Linked DNA regions of Homo sapiens: region 1 is linked to region 2. The links come from fine-mapping of genetic effects on gene expression. A gene starts in region 2. The other region holds a variant in brackets. All regions are shown on one strand. Distances are between the middles of the regions.

What was found. PIP is the estimated chance that this variant, and not a neighbour inherited with it, causes the effect.
Region 1: its variant is fine-mapped to the expression of SUPV3L1 in lymphoblastoid cells (TwinsUK, PIP 0.95).

The regions. Positions count from the first base shown.
Region 1 is chr10:69,118,001-69,126,520 of GRCh38, forward strand. It overlaps VPS26A (VPS26 retromer complex component A), which reads left to right and starts at 6,178. Exons shown (of 9, transcript NM_004896.5): 1 at 6,178-6,280. The coding sequence starts at 6,278. RefSeq lists enhancers at 5,412-5,771, 6,636-7,142 and a silencer at 6,032-6,431. The variant C/CT (reference allele first, on the strand shown) is at 3,964.
Region 2 is chr10:69,176,636-69,184,635 of GRCh38, forward strand. SUPV3L1 (Suv3 like RNA helicase) reads left to right here and starts at 3,599. Exons shown (of 15, transcript NM_003171.5): 1 at 3,599-3,927. The coding sequence starts at 3,657. RefSeq lists an enhancer at 3,314-3,683.

The DNA of each region.
Region 1 (8,520 bases), 58 kb before region 2:
GAAATTGCAGTCAATTTGTCAGCTGAGGCTGCAGTCACCTGAAGAGTTAATGAGGGCAGGAGGATTAGCTTCTGAGATGGCTCACTCACATGGCTGGCAAGTTAGTTCTGGCTATTTCCAGGTGATCTCAGTTCCTCACTATGTGGACCTCTCCATTGGACTTCTCCCAGAATGAGTGACCCAAGAGAAAGCAAGTCAGAAGCAGCCGTGAAAGTCACACACATCACTTCCATTTTATTCTGTTGGTCACACAGACCAGTGTTGACAACATTTGAGAAGGGACTACAAAGGAGTGTAAATACTGGAAGGCAAGGATCATCGGGGAATATCTTGGAGGCTGGCTACTATAACACAGTCATTTCAAAAAAAAATCATAAGAGTTGGAACATAAAATTGGAGAAATTATTTAGAAAGGAGAACAAAGAGACAACTAGATGGAAAATAGAAAAGAAGAGATAAGAAAATGACATAATCAATTCAGGAATTCCAATATGCAACTAATAGAAGACCCAGGATGAAAGAGGAGAGGAAAAGATGGGAAGAAATTATCAGAGAAATTTAGCAAGGTTTCAAGATACCAAGTTATTGTAGAAAAGTCACACACAAACACATGCACAAGCAATGAACAATTAGAAAATATTTTTTTAAAACAAAATTTTAAATTTGGTATAGAGACGGGGTCTTGCCATGTTGCCCAGGCTTGTCTTGAACTCCTGGGCTCAGGCAATCCTCCTGCCTCGGCCTCCCAAAGTGCTGGGATTACAGGTGTGAGCCACCATACCAGGCCAGAAAATAAAAAAAAAAAATTAATACAATTTACAATAGTGTCAAAAAATAAATGCTTAGAAAAAAATTTAACAAAAGATATGAAAGGTACTGAAAACTACAAAACATTGCCAAAAGAAATTAAAGCTGTTTTCTCTACTTATTTAGAAAAATAGATAAATACACCATATTCATGGATTGCAAGGCCCAATATTGTTAAGACACCAATTTTCCCCAAATTAAGGTGTAGGTTCAAACCATTTCCAAGCAGTAGATTTTTTTTTTTTGGAGAAGTGGATTCACAATTTATAAATGTATGTTGGAATACAAGAACTTAGAATAGCCAATGCATTTTTGAAAAATAACAAGTTGGAATAATTACAGTACCTTACTTCAAGGTTTACTATAAAGCTATTGTATTGAAGACAGTGTAGTATTGCATAAATATAGACAAACAGATCAATGGAAAAGACTAGAAATTTCAGAAATAGGCCCACAATTATACAGTCAATAGATTTTTTACAAAAACACCAAAGATATATCTATCTATCTATACAGACATATATATATGTATATATATATATACATATATATATATACATATATATATATATATATTTTTTTTTTTTTGAGATAGAGTCTCACTCTGTTGCCCAAGCTAGAGTGCAATGGCCCAATCTTGGCTCACTGTAACCTCTGCATCCCAGGCTCAAATGATTCTTCTGCCTCAGCCTCCTGAGTAGCTGGGATTACAGGCACGCACCACCACACCCAGCTAATTTTTGCATTTTTTAGTACAGACGGGGTTGCACCATACTGGCCAGGCTGGTCTTGAACTCCTCACCTCAGGTGATCCACCTGTCTCAGCCTCCCAAAGTGCTGGGATTACAGGCATGAGCCACCGCGCCCGGCTAACACCAAAGATATTTAAGGGGGAAAGGTAAGTGTTTGCAACAAATGGTGCTGGAACCATGTAGACACAAATAAGCTCTCAAATCTTACCCCATACTATTTGCAAAATTTAGTTTGAGATGGATCTCATTTTACATTTTACACCTAAATGTAAAAGTCCAAATTCTCAAGTCATCAACAGACATTGTTAGGAAAGTAAATAAGCACACAGAGTGGGAGAAAATATTTGCAATTACTACATTTGATACAGGACTTATATTCAAAATATTTGATAAACTATAACTCAATGAGAAAATAAACATCTTAACTAAAAATTGGCAGTCTTGACAGGCACTTCCCAAAGGGAGGTATATGTGAATGATACATATGCACATGAAAAAGTGTTCAGAATCATTAATCATCAGGGAAAAGCAAATTAAAATCACAGTGAGAAAACCACACACTCATAAGAATGACTAATGTTAGAAACACTGACAACACCAAATGTTAGCAAGGATATAGAAACAATATTTCACACACTCGTGATGGGAGGATAAAATGGCACAAACAGTTTAAAAAGTGATGTGGCATTTTCTTGTAAAATTAAATATACACCTAACCCAACCCAGCAATTCCACTTCGGTTAGGTTCACAAAAAAGGCGTGTACATAGTAGCACTTTGTTCACAATAGAAAAAAATGGGCAAAAAGATGTCCACTGACAGGAAAAAGGATATTTTGTGGTCTCTTCACAAAATGGAATACTACTATAAGCAATGAAATGGAACAAACTGCTGATGCATACAACAACATAAATAAGTATCAAAACCATTTTGCTTAGGGAATGAAACAAGACACAAAAGAACACTTGTGGTATGATTCCATTATTATTTTGCTATAGAACACACAAAGCTAATCAATATCAAAAAAAAATCAGAACAGTGGTTGCGTCTAGGAGATGGGATTGATTGTGAGAGGATGTGAGAAAGTTTTCTGGGGTTGATGGCAGTCATCTATATCTTGATGAAGGTGTGGGTTAAACAAATGTATGCTTTTTTTTTAAGAGTCAGGGCCTGGCTCTGTAGCCCAAACTGGAGTGCAGTCGCACCAGTGTGGTTCACTATAGCCTGGAACTCCTGGACTCAAGCAATTCTCCCGCTTCAGCCTCCTGAGCGGCTGTGACTACAGGCATGCCCCACCACCTGGATAATTTTTAAATTTTTTCTAGAGACTAGGGTCTTGCTCCACCATCCAGGCTGGAGTGCAGCGACACGACCATTGCAGCCTTGAACTCCTGGCCTCACGCAATCCTCCTGTGTTGGCTTCACAAAGTGCTGAGATTATAGACATGAGCCACGGCGCCCTGTGACACCATGCACAATCAAAATGTATGCAATTGTCAAAACTGATCAAACTGCACACTTAAGACTAACATATGTCACTGTATGTACATTATATCTCATTTTAAAAAGAAAAGAGGAATAGTGAGATAAAACATTAAGTATTGGTACATTTAAGAAAAAACTGTATATTGTGAAAAAATGTTTGGCTTTTATAATTGTAATTTTTTAAAAAAAGAATATTTACCATGATTACAGCTGCACTCGCTAAAGTTTTTAAGCAAAATCTATTCTATGTGCTCTGGGAGGTTAAAAGAAAAAAGTGTTTCTATACTTCACTGGCATGCTTTAAATTGTATTTTATTTTTAAATTAAATTAATTTATTATTTATTTTTTGAGACAGGGTCTCGCTCTGTTGCTCAGGCTGGAGTGCAGTGGTGCAATCTCTGCTCACTGCAAACTCTGCCTCCCTGGCTCAAGCTATCCTCCCACCTCAGCCTCCTGAGCAGCTGGTCCAATAGGCACATGCCACCACTCCCAGCTAATTTTTGTTCTTTTGCAAGAGACAAGGTCTCACCATGTTGCTCAGGCTGGTCTCAAACTCCTGGGCTGAAGTGATCCACCTACCTCAGCCTCCCAAAGTGTTGGGATTACAGGTGTGAGCCATTGCGCCCGGCCTAAATTGTATTTTCTTTCTTTATCCTTTTTGTGTATTTGTATTTTATTCTCTTCCCTTAACTTTGCCAGTGAACTCTGCAAACAGCTGCTCCCTGACACTCTCACAGTTATTAATGTGAATTTTTAGTCTTTGTGAATTTGAACAAATGACTATTTTTCTCTTAACTGGTTTCTGATTGATAAAAGCTCAGATTATCTTATCATCTAATACTTTCTGACCTAAACTCGGTACTTTTGTTGATGAAAGTCAATCCCTGTAAGTTAGTCACATTTTCCTCACACACCCCAC[C/CT]TTTTTTTTTTTTTTTTTTTTGGCAGAGGGCAAATATAGAGATGCCACAGTTCTCAGCTGGTGAAACACTGTACTGCTCACAATCTAGCTCTAACATTCTGGCTTGCTGAATAGATTGATAGGTAGGCAGACAGACAAATAACTAGCTCAACAATTCTGTTGCTTCTTGTATTTATTATGATAGCACAATTATTGATTGGGTTTTGATCAGTAGAATAAATAATTAGTACAAATTGGTTTCTAGTGTGACTTTCTTTGCCACCTCTTATTTATACCTGGCTTCGCTAGTATTTCTTTGCCTGTGTGGCATTTTCATCTATTCTCTTTGTTATGTTGATATTTAAGTCCCAGAAAAGAGTGGGTAGGAACCAGAGTAGCTCTCAAGGTGACAGGCAAATCTTCTAAGTGAAAAAAACCATTTTTCACTTTTATTAATTAAAGATTTGCATTGTTTTTGCTGCTTTCTTTTCACAGTTCAAACAGACAACAATATCAGTGTTACTATAGTTATTTATTTTTTTTGAGATGGAGTCTCGCTCTGTCACCAGGCTGGAGTGCAGTGGCGCAATCTTGGCTCACTGCAATCTCTGCCTCCTAGGTTTAAGTGATCCTCCTGCCTCAGCCTACCGAGTAGCTAGGATTACAGACGTGCACCACCATGCCCCGCTGATTTTTGTATTTTTAGTAGAGACGGGGTTTCGCCATGTTGGCCAGGCTGGTCTCAAACTTCTGACCTCAAGTGATCCGTCCGCCTCGGCCTCTCAAAGTGCTGGAATTATAGACTGTGAGCCACCATGCCTGGCCCAAATATGTGCATTTAAAGCTACAAATTTTCCTTTTACACAGTGTCACTGCATTCCACAAATTTGATATGTTGTATTATTATCTTTTATTTCAAATTATTTTATTTTTATTATTTTTTATTTTTGAGACAGAGTCTTGCTCTGTCGCCCAGGCTGGAGTGCAGTGGCTCCATCTCGGGCACTGCAACCTCCGCTTCCCGGATTCAAGAGATACTCGTGTCTGACCTCAGGTGATCCACCTGCCTTGGCCTCCCAAAGTGTTGGGATTACAAGTGTGAGCCTCCGTGCCCGGCCTCAACTTATTTTTAAATTTCCATTGATCTCTTCTTTGACCTAGAGATTTGGAATTATGTTGCTTAATTTCCAATATTTCCGGAATTTTCTGGCTTGTTTGGGTTGATTTCTAATTTTAATTCTATTGCGGTTAGAGATGATACTCTGATTTCAATCCTCTTAAATTTGAGGCTCACACTGAGGATTAAGTATAAAAAAATTTTTTTTGATACCTGTTTCATGGACTCGCCTCACAAACTTCTGTTTTAAGGTGGGGTAATTATAGTGCGTTCAGGGATGGATTTTTCTTCTGCTTTGGTTATGCATAGAGTGCACTGTGGCCCTTCAACACTATACTCTGAAATCCCACACAGTATTTTCCTCATCTGGAGGTCCTATAGGCTTACACTAGGGAGGAGGATCCAGTTCAGGCCAGCGTAGTCTTCAGCTGCGCCGTGGGACTTTCGGGGGAGCGCCTTTGCCCTCTCAGAACGGCTGGGCGGAACGGTGGGTTTGTGAGCCCTCCAGGCTCAGGGTGGGTCGCTCAGGGGCCATCTGGGGACTTTGGGAAGCAATGAAAGTTGTACCCTAGGATTTTTTTCTACTGGTCTTCTCTTCAGAGGCGAGAAAGCCAAGTTAAGAAAACCCAGACTCAGAAGGAGGTGGAGCGGGACTGCGTTCAGGCAAGGTGGCAGAACGCCTCGCCGTGGACGAAGAGAGCACATCTCTTCTTGCGAGGCCTAAGGAAGTAGGGCTCCCACTCGCCTCGGCAACCCAAGGACCCAGCCAAGGAGAGAGCCTCCAGATGAATCCTTCCTCTCCTCCTTCCTTCCCAGCCGCTCAAACTTTCACAAAGAGGAACTGGGTGCGGTAAAGAGGCCGGACACGGAACCGCTCGTCCGGTGACCGAAGAGACGGCGAGGAGGAGCCCGCGAACCCGCCTCTGTTCAGGCCCCGCCCACTCGACGTAATTTGCCCGCCCCTCTCCACCCTCCGAAGGGTGGAGCCTGAGGCCCCGCCTCCAAGCGGCCTCTCCCCGGAGTGCCTGGCGGCCAGCAGGGCGGGGCAGGAGGCTGGGAGAGGGACGGGTGCGGGGGTGGGGGAGAGGAAGGGAGCGGTCACGTGTGAGGGGCGGCCCGAGGTCACGTGACGGAGCGCCGGAGCGGAGGGAGCCGGGGCTGGGAGTTCTCCTGAGGGAAGAGGAGTGGAGTAGGGGGGACGCGGCGGCGGCGTTGACAATGGTGAGTGCGCGGCGGCCAGCGCGCTCGCCTCCCGCCCTCGTCCCGGAGCGCGCGGCGGGCCGGCCAACCGCGGGCCGGGCGTCGCCGGAGGAGGGGACGGGGGAGCAGGGCGGGGAGCGGGGTTAGGCCTGTCGGGCCACCCCTGGGTCTGGGAAAAGCTGGCGGCGCCACCTCTTCCCGGTCTCGGCGAGGCCCGAGCACCTACGGGCGGCGGCGTGCTCTCCTGGCCATGTCGGAGCCTCTGCCCGCGTTCTTCGACTGCTTGTTGGGGCTCTGGCTGGGGACTCGGACCCCGCCTCTGCGGGGGCTGGTCGCCGCCTCCCCTTCCTAGGTAGCCAGTCCCTGTTCTCCTCCCGGGCAGCCTCTCTTCCATCCAGGTGGGGCGACCCGGGAGCCCCCCACCTCCGGACTCTTCGGGGGACTTGGGCACTCAGTGTGTCACGAACTTGATAAACTCTGATATTTTAAAACCTGACTATGGTGACATTCTTTGATTTCATGACCCCAGTTCAGGCTTTCTGTTGACACTTGTAAAATGGGAGAGAAAAATAAAAGGACGTTGGAATGGGGGATATCTTTAACTCCAGAGACACCCGTTTGGTGCCCGCCGTTTTAAGCATTGGCTCTCATTTCCGTCCGCAAGCTATTTCGCTGAACTTAACGCTCTGGGTTGTTGAAACGGCCTATGAGGCAGAGGAGGGAGGGGAATCAGTGCTCTCACCACAGTCCGCGGAAGCACTAGCCTGGGCATTGTGGTATTTAGCTGGGTGTCGGCAGTCTCTAGGTTAGATCTCATTTTACCCATTTTCTGGTAGTAGTCGTCAGTTCTCTTCATTTAGCGCCTACTGTATGCTCTCCTAATACTACCTGCTCTTCCCAAAGCTCACTGATTCAATAGACTGCTTGAGACTTTTGGCTTAAAAGGCCGAGCCAGGTATATTTTTAAAAAGCTACTTTGAATAAATAACTTTTAATTTCAGTAATGATGTTGCTTTCAAAACAAAACAAAACAAAATCCAGACATTCATGTTCATTCTTAGAGCTTTTTTTCTTTCATTCAACAAATAATTGCTCAGGTGTGCCTAGGGGACCCCAGTAAAATGGAAACAGCGCCTACCTGCTCTCGTAGCTTACAATGTAGGGAGAGATAAACATTTATTTGTGTAAATTATTTGTTTAACGTGGAAATTAGAATTGTGACAGATACTAAGAAGGAAGTATTGGGGGACCTTGCCTAGTCAGTGTTAGGGCAGGCTTCTTTAATTGAATATCATTTGAAAAGAAAACTTAAAAGGTCCTCCTATTTTTTGCTTACATTTGTAATTATTACTTTTAATACGCTTTTTTGAATTATGTTCAAGAGCAGTTTATATTTTCAAGTTACCCAAACAGAAACTAAATTGTAAAACTTTAAAACACTGAAATGGTCACAGATGTAATATATGTATGAAAATTTGCTGTTTCATTGCTTGTGTATGGGCTAAGTGAATGAATTTTGAGAGTCAGCCTTCCACCTCAGAAATGCAATGAGTTGCATTTCTTTACATCCACTGGACTTAGTGAAATTCCTTCAGTGGGGACTAAAAAGTTGCCTTTTTATGTATCTACCATGTATTTTTGCTAATTGGTAATGCTCAATATTGGGTTCAGAAATTATATGAAAAATCCTAAATTAACCTAAAGTCAGTGATAGGAGGTTTAGGCCAAGATTAGAAAACTATAAAAACAATTGCTAGCATGTTTTTATAGTCATATATATTGCAGTCCAGTTATTTAAAAGCTCAAGAGTTTTAACTTGCATATTAATAGTTAATCCTGAAAATCGCAATATTCCAAATGCGCCCTTGAAGATATCTTTACCAAAAGAAGTGAGTAGTATTTTTGCACTTAAAAGATCTCACGGGGTGCGGTGGCTCACACCTGTAATCCCAACAATTTGGGAGGCCGAGGTGGGCGGATCACCTTGAAGTCGGGAGTTTGAGACCAGCCTGGCCAACATGGCGAAACCCCGTCTTCACTAAAAATACAAAAACAAAAAAAAATTGGCCAAGTGTGGTGGCGCATTGCTGTAGTCCCACCTACTCGGGAGGCGGAAGTTGCCTGACCAACATGGTGAAACTCCGTCTCAACTAAAAATAAAAAAATTAGGTGTGGCGCACACCTGTAATCCCAGCTACTCAGGAGGCTGAGGCAGGAGAATCAATTGAACCCGGGAGGCAGAGGTTGCAGTGAGCCGAGAT
Region 2 (8,000 bases):
GTGTTGGAACTTAATCATCAAATTCATATATTGATTGGAGGTGAGGCCTTTGGGAAGTAATTAGGATTAGATAAAAGTTCTCAGTGTGGGTCCCCCATGATGTGACTGGTGGCTTCGTAAGAAAAGAGAAACCTGAGTTGACACACAGGTCTTGCTCTCTGGCCATGTGATGCCTTCTACCAGGTTATGTCAAGAGGGCCATCACCAGATGCCAGCCTCTTGATCTTGGACTTCCTAGCCTCCAGAACTAAAAGAAATAAATTCATTTTCTTTACAAATTACTCAGTCTGTGGTGTTCTGTTATAGCAATGCAAAATGGAGTAAGTGTTATCTTGGCCCTATCCTGAAGGAACTTTAATCCAGAGCAGTGGTTCTCAAAAGTGTGGTCTCAGACCAGCAGAGTTGCATCATCTGAAATGTTTTAGAAATGTAAACTCTCAGATCCCACTCCAGATCTACTGAATCAGAAACTTCAGGGATGGGGCCCAACAATCTTGTTGCACTCTAACGTTTAAGAACCACTGACCCAGAGACACAATTACGATAGTTTTCATTCTATGATAGAGCCTCTACTGGGACCTGTGATATGTAAGAGAAGCACCCAGTGTGTTCAGAGGTGCAGAGGTAAGAAACGATGATATAACTGGTGTATAGTTCCAGCATGAATAGAATGGTAGATGTGGGGAGTAGAAATAAAGCTGGAAGAGGCATATAGGGCCAACCAATTTAGGACAGAACCTGGATGCCATACGATGGAATATGGGCTTTATCTGAACATTTATTCAGAATCACCAAAGGACTCTAAGCAGGAGTAACTTACCAGATTTGTGTTTTCAAAAGATCATTATGGTGCTACGGCAAAGTATAGGAGGATACCAGTTACATAGTTACTGCATTAATCCATTCAACAAGCAAAATAAAACATTTATAGAGGCTCTAATATGTGTTAGGTGCTGATTACACTTACTGCTATAAATATGACATAACCAGTATAGATATGACATCTTTTTTTGTAAAAGCAAAAATTTTATATTGAATTTTCCCATTTCAATGTTTATAGTAGAACTTAATGAATGGCTGAAAGGGAAAGCCTGTATGTGCTATCATAAAATTCAGATTGCATTTTCTACCTGCAAGGAGGTGCAAACAAAATTACAGTTAAAATAGTTTTGAGGATTTTTTTTTTCTGTAAAACTATACTAGGGTTGGGCTAGATCTGTAAGACTAGTAACTGCCAGGTGCTGTGGCATGCACCTGTAGTTCCAGTTACTCAGGAGGCTGACACAGGATTGCTTGAGCCCAGGAGTTCACGATCACCCTTCCAAAGAAAAAAAAAGACTCGTACAAATGTTGATTCTGGCCTAATATGCTGCTCCTGTCCAAAAAGCCCACCTATTTGCTTTGAAATCAGAAAGACTGGCTGGGCACGGTGGCTCACACCTGTAATCCCAGCACTTTGGGAGGCCGAGGCAGCTGGATCACTTGAGGCCAGGAGTTCTGAGACCAGCCTGGCCAACATGGTGAAACTAAAGAGAATACAAAAATTAGCCAGGTATTGTGGTGCAAGCCTGTAGTCCCAGCTACTCGGGAGGCTGAGGCATGAGAATTGCTTGAGCCTGGGAGGTGGACGTTGCAGTGAGTTATGATTGCACCACTGCACTTCAGCCTGGGCAACAGAGTGAGACTGTCTCAAAAAAAAGAAAAAAAAAAGATTTAGATTTGTATCTGACTCTACCACTTACTGGGGCAAGTTAGTTAACCTGGTGACAATAATACCTCTAAATTGTTGTCAAGCATATTAAAAGATTAAAAGGAACAACATAGTGCTTGCCTCAGTTACGTATTAAACGTTTGGTTTATCCTTCATTCTCCTAGTTTCCAAATCTGACGAGACATCATTGTTTATTAACATTTTCTAGCATATTTAGTCACTCACTACATTATCTAAGGAGTCTTGTAAAACCTCTCATTCCACATACATGGTCTCCATCATAACTCAGACACAGGAATCTACCACCTTCAGCTAGAACTGTTGATAAAGTTGTAATTTTCCTCCCTGCATATTTGTGTTTATCCTAGTCTATCCTAGGTACTTCCTAATGAATGATTTCTCTTCTCAAAAATATAATCACTATTTGTAAGCCATAGAATTAGGTCTGCGTTAACTCTGTTACTTAAATTTTTTTCAGTATGTCTTTTCCTTAGTTAAGCCTCTGCTTACATCGTTTCCACTGACTAGAATTTACTTACCGCTTCTCTATGTTTTACTTTTAAGTCTGGCAGAAATCTCCTTACCACTCTCAAATTGCTCCTTTCTTTGAACTGCCATTAGTCTATTAGAGTAATAAGTGCATTATTTAACGTGTACTGTTCTTACCACCAAAACCAGATCAGAACCTTTGAAAGCAAAGGACTGTCTCCTTGTATCCCTGATGTTTAAAAATTATTTTGTGAATCAAAGGCACGTGGCAAATTGTTACTGGAATCCTATTAGACATACAGTATTGTATATTACATAACACGTTCCTTCAAGTTGTAAGATCTTAATGATGTAAGTATAAAGAGATGTGGATGGAGATGCTAAACTTGTGAATTTTTTTTTTTTTTAGACGGAGTCTCACTCTGTTGCCCAGGCTGGAGAGCAGTGGCCCGATCTCGGCTCACTGCAACCTCTGGCACCCAGGTTCAAACGATTCTCCTGCCTCCGCCTCCCTAGTAATTGGGATTACAGGTGTGCACCACCACGCCCGGCTGATTCTTGTATTTTTAGTAGAGAGGGGATTTCACCATGTTTGCCAGGCTGGTCTCGAACTCCTGACCTCAGATGATCCACCGGCCTCGCCCTCCCTAAGTGCTGCGATTACAGGCGTGAACCACCACGCCCGGGTTAAACTTGTGAATTTAACATGTTGCAGCCTCACATGAGAACACGGTATTCAACAAATGCAATGGAACGAAACTATGGCTGGGGTACAGAGCACGTATTTTTGCCATGTGGTCACAACTATGTGGTCATAGCTGCTAGGATGATGTACGCAAACTGCTCACATTAAAGCAAAAGTACTTACGTAATACAAGGGGTTTAATAGTGCAACAATATTTCTTAGCAACATTTCTGAGGGGCATATCAAGTTATTATCGCTAACGTTATCATATCAGGAAATGACGGTTAACAATGCAAGAAACTTTTGGGAAATGCTATTTAGTGTTTGAGTCCGCAAGACATACTCGTACCCTGAGCATTCGCAGTTGCTGCTCCACCACCCATTCTCTCACTGCTCACCCACGTGCTTCTGGACACTTGCTTACCAAAGTACTAGTTTGCATCACGTGACACGACTAGCAGGCCCCCTCCGCTCATGTATGACATCCCAAAGATGCCTGATTATTTTCCCTTCTTTAGGGAAAGGTGGTCCCAATCACCAACAAAACAGAGAAAGAGAACGAGAATTATCTCTAGTGGTTTTGCCTGCTAATCTTCTTTTTCCCTGAAAGAACACCCTCACGGCACGGCGTTTTCCTTAACGGTCAGGCGTTTTCCCGGGCAGCTTACCTGCTCGGCCTGGGTCTTTCTGGACAGCAGGCGCTGGAGGTGCGCGTCACTGTCCGCCGCCGTGTCCGCGGCTGCGCCAGACAGTGTAGAACCTGCGGCCTCGATGTCCTTCTCCCGTGCCCTATTGTGGGCTCGGCTCCCGGCGGGGCGCCAGGCTGGCCACCGGGCAGCCATCTGCTCTGCCCTTCGTCCCCACTTTGGGCCCTTTCCCGGGGTTCTGGGGCAAGTTTCTGTCCTTGCCACCGCCTCCTCCTCTGCCTCCGGTGGCTCCAAAATACCAAACACGTCCTTGTTCGTGCCCCTGACTGTGAAACCTCAGGGCCCCAGCGCCGACGGCGACGTCGGGGCCGAGCTAACCCGGCCTCTGGACAAGAGTGAGTGCGGGAACTACTGAGGGCGGCAGAGGGTGGTGTCTGCTGGGCCGAGGCTGGTTGGGAGGAAGCTACATCCCCTTCCCCTGGGGATCCGAGGTCCCATCGAGTGTTGTCATCGTGCCTCTCAGTGTCTGCCTCCTTCGCTGGTGTGTGAGCCCCTCAAACGGCTTAGGACTGTATCTGATTAATTCTTAACGCCTCGTCCCAGAAGCGGCCTTTTCCCTTTTACTGCCCTGCTCTCTGAATGGTTTAGACACTCATGTGTTGGGAAGATTTGACTTTTTTGAGTTGTTAGGTGGACGCCCGCTCTTTCTTGCATTCTTTGTTTCTCTCCCACCCCCGAATGGGATGTGGCAGTGAAAAGCCAGCGGAGACTCCTTTTAGGATTCTTTATCATTGAGGAGGCGCCGACTCATACCACGCTGTTAGGCTGTGTGGTGGTTGCCAAGAGGAACCAGACTCAGATCCAGATCCCCTCTTAAGAAACGTAACGGTATCGTGGGGGAGGACACGTGTATGGAAAGTGAACTGTAATACAAGGTAGAACATGACAAGGTCTAGAACAAGGTAGGGTGTCCCCGGCTCCAGAGAGAAAAGAAGAGGTAGCATCAGTTAGTGGCAGCGGGCTTTGCTCAGCAAAACTTAAGTTTGGATGGATTCGTTGACAGAGAGGCATGTGAATGTTTTCAAGGTGAGTTTCGGGATGATTAGGGAGGTAAGGGAGTTTCCTCTGACCATATGAAACTGGGAGATTGAGGAAATGCTATCCAGAATTGTCTCCAGGAATAGGAGGAGAAATGTCTCACTTCAACAAGCGACATTGGTGCCTCCTATTGTAAATCTAAAATATAGACTACAATATGTTTTTCAGAGCAGAAGTACAGTACTTTCACTAAACATGTGATGGAACTCACAGTATATGTTATTCTTTGACATATTCTTCCAGTGTTAAGCAAGGCCTTTCACTTTACTTGGTGCTGGGAGACTGTCTTTATTTTCTGCTGTTATAACATAATACCTGAGACTGAGTAATTTATAAACAATAGAGGTGTATTTGACTCATGGTTCTGAGCCGGGATCTGATGAGGGCCTTTGGCTGCATCATCACATGGTGGAAGGTGGAAAGGCAAATGAGCCTGTGAGACAGAGAAAGGGGGCTGAACTTATCCTTTTTTCCTGTGATAACTGACTCCTGTGATAATGGCATTAATCCACTCACAAAGGCAAACTCCTCATGTCCTAATCACCTCTTAAAGGTTCCACCTCTCAACTGTTAAAATAGCAATTAAATTTCAATATGAGTCTTGGAGAAGACATTCAAACCATAGCAGAGAATGTGTTATTTTAATAATGTAATTATACTATTATTTATTTTTAAATTATAAAAATACATAAAATTTACTCTTTTAAGCTTTTTTTTAGTTTTTTTTTCTTTACTTTTTTTTTTTTAGAGACAGGGTCTTGCTCTGTTACCCAAGCTGGAGTATAGTGGTATGATCATAGCTCACTGTAACCTCCAACTCCCAGACTCAAGCAATCCTCCTGGCTCAGCCTTCTAAGTAGCTAGGAATACAGGCGTGCATCACCATGCCTGGATAATTTTTTAATTTTTTGTAGAGATGGGGTCTTGCTATGTTGCCCAGGCTGGTCTCAAACTTCTGGGCTCCAGGGATCCTCCTGCCATGGCCTCCCAAAGCCCTGAGATTACAGACCTGAGCCACTGCACCCAGCCAGTCTTAATTGTTTTTAAGCACATAGTTCACTAGCGTTAAGTATATTGACATTGTCGCGAAATAGATGAGAACTTTTTCATCTTGCAGAGTTGAAACTCAAACAATAGTTTACCCATTAAAGAACAATTTTCCATTATTTTATATTATTTGAAGGCATAAGGTAATTTGGATGAGATAATTTGCCTTATTGTATTCAAATATTGATAAATTCTTATTTTCTGCAGCTATTCCAATTCACCTGAAAATGTAAATGTCTTTGCTGCTTCCTGTAAGAAGATAGAATAAAGACATGGGTTTGTCAGCACTAGATTTTCTTCTGGTGGAGAATCCTTAGATACTTCATTGGGTCTGTGTGCCAGGTGATTTTTCATCTCCTTTGACTGGGATTGGTCCAGATGTTGAATTTACTAGAATGATTTTTCAGCATGGCAGGAGGGGCTACAGAAGATGGTGCATTACTACACTCTGATATAGCCATGTGGTTAAGGTGTCAGATTTCCACTTAGCTTAGCAATCAGGACAAGAAGCTGTCACTTCTCAATCTCTTTTGCCTACTCATAACCCAAAAAGTTGAGGTACTTAAAGGCTTTGTCCTGCGTCACCTTGCTGCCTTATTCTGTGCTGTCTATGGGGTGTCTCATTCTCTCTCTCCCCTCACTAATTCAGTATTCCTCTCAGATCTTTGTCTCTACCCTGGACCTCTCTCCTTCACCCTGGACCTATATATCTCGCTGCCTACCAGGTGTCTCCACTTGTCTTTCTTACACACACCTCACCTTAGCATGTCAAGACAACTTACCTTCCCCTCAGCCTGCTCCTGCAGGTGCTCAGGTCAAAACCTGGTAGTCTTTGTTCTTCCATCCCTCACCCCTACATCTAACAATCAGAGAAAGCCCAGTTAATGAGTCTTGTTGATTCTACCTCATAAATGTTGGATTCATTCATTTCCCTCATTCTCCACTGCAACCAGCTTAGTCTAAATTGCCAGCTTCCATCTTTTGACTGGACTGCACATATAGCCCCTTATGTGTCTCCTCATATGCCTTTGATCCCTTCATTCTATTCTCTACCTGCAGTCAGAATGTTCTTTTAAAAAGACTAGGCTGGGCGCAGTGTCTCGTGCCTGCAATCCCAGCACTTTGGGAGGCCCAGGAGGGTGGATCGCTTGAGCCCAGGAGCTCAAGACGAGCTTGGGCAACATGGCAAAACTCCATCTCTACAAAAAATACAGAAATTAGCCAGGCATGATGGTGTGTGCCTGTAGTTCCAGCTACTTGGGAGGCTGAGGTGGGAGGGTTGCTTGAGCTTGGGTAGTAGTAGAGGTTGCAGTGAGCCGAGATTGCACCACCACACTCCAGCCTGGGTGACAAGAGTGAGACCCTGTCTCAAATAAAAAAAGAAAGATACAATTTTAATTTACATACTAGAAAGCTCACCCTTTAAAAGTGTATAATTCACTGGGTTTTAGTGTATTTGCAGGATTGTACAATCATCACCATAATTTCATTTTAGAACATTTTTATCACCCTAAAAAGAAACCTGATATCTGTTAGCAAGTCACTCTCTAGTTCCCCAGTCCCCAGTGTCTTTTTTTTTTTTTTAGCTCCAGATAACCACTAATCCACATTCTGTCTGTTGATTTGCCTGTTTTGTGTATTTCATATTTATAGTGTCATATAGTATTGGTCTTTTGTAACTGGTTTCTTTTACTTAGCATAATGAGAAATTTCACATTTTGGAAGCATTTTAATTTGAGTAAAGCAGCATGAATCTTATATAACACCGTAGTATTAGTCACAGAAAATAGGTTAATTCTAAATAAATGTGATCTGTCTTTAGTTTGTATCGAGTTTATAGGTCAGCAGAATTTTCCCAAGCAATGATGGCATGTGCCTTTTTCCAATCTTTTATTTGTCATTGGTTTTTCTACCCTTGATACCAAGAAACTGTTGGCCAGGTGCAGTGGCTCACGCCTGTAATCCCAGCACTTTGGGAGGCTGAGGCTGGCAGATCACCTGAGGTCAGGAGTTCGAGACCGGCCTGACCAACATGGAGAAACCCTGTCTCTACTAAAAATACAAAATTAGTCGGGCATGGTGCATGGTGATGCATGCCTGTAATCCCAGCTACTTGGGAGGCTGAGGCAGGAGAATCTCTTGAGCCCGAAAGGCGGAGGTTGCAGTGAGCTGAGATCGCGCCATTGCCCTCCAGCCTGGGCAACAAGAGTGAAACACTGTCTCCAAGAAAAAAAGAAACTGTTGTTCCTACCCGGCACAAAGTAACAGAGACCCAGAAATCTGCCTGTGATCTGAAATATAAATACACACACACACACACACA